Linked DNA regions of Homo sapiens. The protein of the gene in region 1 purifies or fractionates together with the protein of each later gene. This does not show direct contact. Each region holds a gene or a part of one and is shown on either strand. Other genes may lie near its edges. The genes, in order: PCDHA6 and SPSB4.

Region 1 (3,818 bases):
GCAGGGAGAGGCCAGCTCCACTACTCGGTCCCCGAGGAGGCTAAACATGGCAACTTCGTGGGCCGCATCGCGCAGGACCTGGGGCTGGAGCTGGCGGAGCTGGTGCCGCGCCTGTTCCGGGCGGTGTGCAAATTCCGTGGGGATCTTCTGGAGGTAAATCTGCAGAATGGCATTTTGTTTGTGAATTCTCGGATCGACCGCGAGGAGCTGTGCGGGCGGAGCGCGGAGTGCAGCATCCACCTGGAGGTGATCGTGGAAAGGCCGCTGCAGGTTTTCCATGTGGACGTGGAGGTGAAGGACATTAACGACAACCCTCCGGTGTTCCCAGCGACACAAAGGAATCTGTTCATCGCGGAATCCAGGCCGCTTGACTCTCGGTTTCCACTAGAGGGCGCGTCCGATGCAGATATCGGGGAGAACGCCCTGCTCACTTACAGACTGAGCCCCAATGAGTATTTCTTCCTGGACGTGCCAACCAGCAACCAGCAGGTAAAACCTCTTGGACTTGTATTACGGAAACTTTTAGACAGAGAAGAAACTCCGGAGCTTCATTTATTGCTCACGGCCACCGATGGAGGCAAACCCGAGCTGACTGGCACCGTTCAATTACTCATCACGGTACTGGACAACAATGACAATGCCCCAGTGTTCGACAGAACCCTGTATACGGTGAAATTACCAGAAAACGTTTCTATCGGAACGCTGGTGATTCACCCCAATGCCTCAGATTTAGACGAAGGCTTGAATGGGGATATTATTTACTCCTTCTCCAGTGATGTTTCTCCAGATATAAAATCCAAGTTCCACATGGACCCCTTAAGTGGGGCAATCACAGTGATAGGACATATGGATTTTGAAGAAAGTAGAGCACACAAGATCCCAGTCGAGGCTGTCGATAAAGGCTTCCCACCCCTGGCTGGTCATTGTACAGTTCTTGTGGAAGTTGTGGATGTAAATGACAATGCTCCACAGTTGACTCTCACTTCCCTGTCTCTCCCTATTCCAGAGGACGCCCAACCAGGTACCGTCATCACATTGATTAGCGTGTTTGACCGAGATTTTGGAGTCAACGGACAGGTTACCTGCTCCCTGACGCCCCGCGTTCCCTTCAAGTTGGTGTCCACCTTCAAGAATTACTATTCATTGGTGCTGGACAGCGCTCTGGACCGCGAGAGTGTGTCCGCCTATGAGCTGGTGGTTACCGCGCGGGACGGGGGCTCGCCTTCTCTGTGGGCCACTGCTAGCGTGTCCGTGGAGGTGGCCGACGTGAACGACAACGCCCCGGCGTTCGCGCAGCCCGAGTATACGGTGTTCGTGAAGGAGAACAACCCGCCGGGCTGCCACATCTTCACTGTGTCGGCGGGGGACGCGGACGCGCAGAAGAACGCGCTGGTGTCCTACTCGCTGGTGGAGCTGCGGGTGGGCGAGCGCGCGCTGTCGAGCTACGTGTCAGTGCACGCGGAGAGCGGCAAGGTGTACGCGCTGCAGCCGTTGGACCACGAGGAGCTGGAGCTGTTGCAGTTCCAGGTGAGCGCGCGCGATGCGGGCGTGCCGCCTCTGGGCAGCAACGTGACGCTGCAGGTGTTCGTGCTGGACGAGAACGACAACGCGCCGGCACTGCTGGCGCCTCGGGTGGGTGGCACTGGTGGCGCAGTGAGAGAGCTTGTGCCGCGGTCTGTGGGCGCGGGCCATGTGGTGGCGAAGGTACGTGCAGTTGACGCTGACTCAGGCTACAACGCGTGGCTTTCGTATGAGTTGCAACCGGTGGCGGCCGGTGCGAGCATCCCGTTCCGCGTGGGGCTGTACACTGGTGAGATCAGCACGACACGAGCCCTAGATGAGACGGACGCACCGCGCCACCGCCTTCTGGTGCTTGTGAAGGACCACGGGGAGCCCTCGCTGACAGCCACAGCCACCGTGCTGGTGTCGCTGGTGGAAAGCGGCCAGGCACCAAAGGCGTCGTCGCGGGCATCGTTGGGCATTGCAGGCCCAGAGACCGAGCTGGTGGATGTCAACGTGTACCTGATCATCGCCATCTGCGCGGTGTCCAGTCTGTTGGTGCTTACCCTGCTGCTGTACACGGCGTTGCGGTGCTCAGCGCCGTCCTCTGAGGGCGCATGTAGTTTGGTAAAGCCCACTCTGGTGTGCTCCAGCGCGGTGGGGAGCTGGTCATTCTCCCAGCAGAGGCGGCAGAGGGTGTGCTCTGGGGAGGGCCCACCCAAGACAGACCTCATGGCCTTCAGTCCCAGCCTTCCTCAGGGTCCATCCTCTACAGACAATGTGAGTCATAAATAATCTTGTTTCCAACAATTTTAAAACAATTAGTTCAATTGGTCTCCTTAAATTTTCTTTCATAATTTCTTTTTTAGTTGATAGCTTTATGTATAATTATTATTTTTTAATGTTATGCTGTATTTGCACTAATTATTTGGAAGTACGTTTAATATACACTTTTGTTTTGGGATGCGTAATACTATAGATCAAAATCTATGGTTTATGTTGGCTACTCTCCATTTTTGGAGGAGGACTTTGCTAACTGGAGCAATGGATTCACCTTTCTTCTATAGTGTATTTACAAAATCAAATATTTACATTTCCATATTTTGATAATCAATACCTATAAATGTTATAGTAAACAAATTTAATATATATGTTACCTAATATTTTATTCTATGTATTGTCCTCATTTTATAAAATATAGCTGTGTCAAAATCATCTGTTCAATTTTGCCTTTTTATCTTTAGTCTAGAACTTGAATTTTAAGCATTTCTTTTACATCTATTTATCTTCTTTTTATCATATTTGTGTAGCACTGACTTCTTTTTAACTTACTTTGTTGAGATGTATTTGCCATGTTCATGAAGAATTAATATGAACAATTTAAAATAGTTTAAATGGCAGTTTAATAGTATTTTTTATTTTGTTCCTTGTTTGTATAAGAAATATATTCACATTCAAAATTTCAAAGAGTGAAATCTAGTACGTAGTAAAAAATCTCCTTGCCTCCTCAAACCCCAAACCATTTACTTTACCTTTCTGAATTTCTGAAGCAGTTTACTTTTTTTGTATATTCCCAAGATTATTATTGCCAAATTATATAAATATATTTACAATCACCAAATTGTAAATCGCCAATATATATATTTTATAATTTGCCCCTTCCTTCCTTCCTTCCTTTCTTTCTTTCTTTCTTCCTTTTTCTTTCATTCTTTTTCTTTTTTCTTTCTTCTTTCAAGACACGCTCTCACTCCATCACCCAGGCTGCTGAAATGCAGTGGTGGGATTATAGCCCACTGCAACCTGAAAGTCCTGGGCTCACAGGATCCTCCCATCTCAGCCTCTGGAGTAGCTGGGAATACAGTTTGCATGTCATTGTGCCTGGCTAATTTTATTTTATTTTTGTAGAGACAGGGTGGAGTCTTGTTTCCCAGGCTGGTCTTGAACTCCTGGCTTCAAGCGATCCTCCTACCTTGGCCTCCCAAAGTATTGGGATTACAGACACGAACAACCACACCCAGCCTGCCTTTCATCTTTCCTTTTTTTTAAAAAAAGAAGTGATTACAGTAGAAACCTACCTTTCTGCACTTTTTGGTTTTCCACTTTAAGTTATATATATATAGTGTGTGTGTGTGTGTGTGTGTGTGTGTGTGTGTGTGTGTGTGTGTGTGTGTGTTTGACAGAGTTTTACTCTGTCGCCCTCTCTGGAGTGCAGTGGTGCAATCTCAGCTCACTGCAAAATCCGCCTCTCTGGTACAAGCAGTTCTCATGCCTCAGTCTCCCAAGTAGCTGGGATTAAAGACGCCAACAACCAAGCCATG
Region 2 (3,818 bases), on another chromosome or scaffold:
AGTCTATAAAGGAATTCCAGTGGTATCTAACTGGATTTCTTTTTACAGTCTTTGTCATTATTCAGATCTCTCGTGGAGTCTGACCCCTTTGGTGTAGGCTGTCTCCCTAAGGGAAAGTGGTTGAGTCTTATGCTTTTCAGCAGCCTGAGATCCCCAGGGCAGGCATCATTACTGCTGGCTAGATGAAAGAAGGAGACTTGCCCCCACCTCTGGCTCCAGCAAGTCCAAAGCCAGAGGCCACACAGAGAGAAGGGCATTTCACGCAGTCACTACCAATCCCCACAGCAGTCATGTCTTCTTGCAGACCCCGTGCCTATTGAGCTCAGCTAGACAGGCCTCTGTGGCTGTGATTTTGGGTCCCAGGCCTCTGAAGACTGTGCATCATATTTTTCAAACTAATGAGGTTCCTTAAACAGTGTGGCATTGCCACTTCATGTCTCCTCATTTCCCTGTCGGGTAGGAACATCTGCTAGGGTCCTGGGAAAGGCAATTAGCAAATTAGAGTTTTTGTTTTCTTGCTCAGCCATGATTGAAGCCCCAGAGCAGATCCTTCTGGATAATGTCATTAAGCATCCCCATCCAAGCATGACGTAGGAAATTAAGTTTGGTTTTGGGGAAAAGTGACGGAGGCATCCTTTGGCGTTCTTCAGGATGCTGGCTGCTTACTGGGTTGAGAGATGATGGTATTCCTGTCAGGAAGATGGATCCTGTTGTATGTCCCATGTGCCTGGCCCAGTGCTGCATGCTGTAGTGGAGATGAGGAGAGGAGAAATGTGCTAAGTGCCCACTCCCTCTGGCTGGAGAGAGAAGGCAGGGATGAGCCCGACTTGGCCACTGCTGTGTCCCTTGCTCTCAGCTGCACAGTGCCTGGCACTGTGTTCACTAAGCATTTTTTGAACGAATAAATGAGGGTTGGAAGCAGGGAAGGATGCAAAGCAGTAGCTAATAAAGGAGTAGACTGGATACAGCCAAGAGTCAGCTGCTCAGGAGTGAGAGTCCAACTATGATAGTGGCATTACTGGGCTTCATGTCCCCATATCCTGACTTTAGCCCTGGCCCTTTCTCTGCTTCATCCTCTGAAAAACAGCAGAGCATGAGCCCTCCCTGAAGCCCAGCACAACCTCTCCACAGTCCATATGTGTGTTCTGCCCCATGTTCAAAGTACCAGGCTTGTGTCTTGCATGGAGGGAGTAGTGCAGTGGCTGGGGGCACAGAAGTGCTGGTGAAAGTTTCCTGCCATCAGAGGAATGCCCTCAAGGTAGAAAAAAGCAGATCAGTAAGGCCTGAAAGATGTCCCCCTGGCTGGCTCAAGGGTGGACAGAGGTACAGGGCAGGCCCCAGGAGGCCTACTGGATCAGGGCAGGCTTCCTAGAGGAGGTGGAGCTCACCCTCATGGACTAATTATCTCTCAAAGGCTCCACCTCCAAATACTATCACACTGGGGCTTTGTGTTAGGCCATTTTTGCATTGCTATAAAGAAATACCTAAGACTGAGTAATTTATAATGAAAAGAAGTTTAGTTGGCTCACGGTTCTGCAGGCTTTACAGGAAGCACGGTGCTGGCATCTGCTTGGCTTCTAGAGAGGCCTCAGGAAGCTTACAGTCATGGCAGAAGGTGAAGGAGGAGAAGGCATGTCACATGGTGAAAACAAGAGCAAGAGGCGGGGGTGGGGAGGTGTCACACACTTTTAAATGAGCAGATATCTCTCCAGAACTCAGTCACTATCCCTAAGACAGCACCAAGCCATGACAGACTCACCCCCATGACCCAGACAGCTCCCACCAGGCCTCACCTCCAGCACTGAGGATTACAACTCAACATGAGATTTGAGCAGGGACAAATATCCAACCTATATTAGGCTTCAACATGTGAATTTGGGGAGGACACAATCAGTTCATAGCCAGGCACATTCAAGTGGTGAAATGGCAATGTTGGAACACATCCACAATTTAAAAGAGCACTCACCACTTACTGGAAGCCCTGTGATGTGCCAGACTTTACAGGTGTCTGCTCTGATACTTGCAAAAGCAGGTGAGGTTAGCACATAGTTAGCAGCACTTCCAACCAGTCTCAGAGAGATTAAGTTCTGGCCTAGGGTCCAACAGACAGGTGGGGATTCACATCTAGGTCTCCTGTCCTTCATTAGATTGCCCAGCTGCTAGTTTCCCTTAACGGCTTATCATTCATGGACATGAGCACTCTGCTGTGCGCCCTGTACTGGGGGAGCAGCAAAGGGGCTGTCTATTTACTTGCCCACCTTGTCACACCACAGTGTGAGCACTCTTCAGGATCTCTGCCTGCCTCTAGTAGGGACAGAGACTTTGAGACTATGATTGCAAAGGAGAGCACTGGGCCCTCAATGACCCAGTATGGGCCAAGCCAAGTACTAGTAAGAGGTCTTCCCTGGGGCTGCTGTTTGGCTGTTGCTTTCAAACATGTTTAAGTGTCTTTTCAGCAACAGCAACTCCACAGTTGGCATGGTTGTGTGCAAGGATAAAGCAGTTTCCCTTAGAAATTTTCTGTGTGGGCCACACAGAGCTGGTTACAGTCATTGCTGTGGAGAGGGCATTATTCTAAACAACATGGAGGAAGAAGTAAGAGCACAGGCTTGTCATATGGTAACTCTGGGGTTGATCCCAGTCCTGCCACTTCCTGGCTGTGTGACCCCAGGTTATGCAAGTTATGCAACCTCTCTGAGCCCGGGCTGCTATTGCAAAGAGTGCTGCGTATGTATGCAGTATGTATGCATGTGCTGTGTACATAGGTAGTTTTGTGCATTTGAGAACATATCTGAATAAATGCTGGAAGTAGAATTGCTAGGTCAAAGGGTCTGTATATTTGCAATTCTGAAAGATGGTGTTAATTTGCCATTTGCCGAGGCTAAACCAGTTTATATCCACTTTAGCAATGTATGAGTCTGTCTTCTGTTCCACACATTCTCCAAGCATGCGTTATCCATTTTTTTGACCTTTAATAAGCTGATAGACAAAAATGGCATTTCAATGGAGTTCTAACTCATTTCTTTTTCAGTATACATTGAGTATCTTTTCAAAGGAACCATTTGTTTTTGTGTAAACTGTTGATATCTTTTCATATTTTGTACTTGTATTCATTTGTAGGAGTTTGACATATATTTGTTGGTAATTTGTGTTGCAAATTTTTTCTTATGTTAAAACAAGTCTAACTTCTTTTACAAGTGCTTTCAGCTACACCGTTTTGTTATTTCCCATTTTCATTTCTTGTTTTACATATTTCTGTCTTCTCCCCCATTAAATGATTATATGGTTTATGTTTTATGTGTTTTTAAAAATTTAGTTACTTATGCATTTAAAGTATATTTAGTGATATGTGAAAATGCAAATTACATAATTTTTAGGTGAAATAATCTAAATAAAGGCCCATTATACCAATTTTTAAAAAGAAAATTCATTATAATTTATAGACCAAAAAAAAAGAGAGAATAAAGCAAAATTCCTCCAAAAGCTGACAATGTTTATATCTGGTTAATGAGATAGGAGAAAGAGGTGAATTCTAGTTTTTGTCCTTTTTTTGTATTCTCTAAAATTTAGACATTTATTTAACCTTTTCTAATTAATGAGCTTTATTTCTTCAGAATAGTTTTAGATTTAAAGAAAAACTAAACAGATAGTACAGAGAGGTCCCATATGCTCACTCCATTTATCACCCTAGTTTCCCCAATTATTAGCATCTTACATTAGTATGGCACATTTATCACAACTAATGAACCAGTATTGATACATTATTATTAACTTATTTTAATAATTAATATTAATAATTGTTATTAACATATTTTTTC

The links.
Region 2: the proteins of PCDHA6 (region 1) and SPSB4 purify together in Homo sapiens (co-immunoprecipitation; one large-scale study listed by IntAct). This does not show direct contact.

Annotation. Positions count from the first base shown.
Region 1 is NC_000005.10:140,834,459-140,838,276, forward strand, and holds part of PCDHA6 (protocadherin alpha-6 isoform 1 precursor), read left to right. Parts: coding exon of another isoform or gene 1-2,295; exon of another isoform or gene 2,296-2,715; intron 2,716-3,818. Other genes in the region: PCDHA7 (protocadherin alpha-7 isoform 1 precursor), read left to right, coding at 1-2,280. UniProt on the Homo sapiens protein: Potential calcium-dependent cell-adhesion protein. May be involved in the establishment and maintenance of specific neuronal connections in the brain.
Region 2 is NC_000003.12:141,057,835-141,061,652, forward strand, and holds part of SPSB4 (SPRY domain-containing SOCS box protein 4), read left to right. Parts: intron 1-3,818. UniProt on the Homo sapiens protein: Substrate recognition component of a SCF-like ECS (Elongin BC-CUL2/5-SOCS-box protein) E3 ubiquitin-protein ligase complex which mediates the ubiquitination and subsequent proteasomal degradation of target proteins.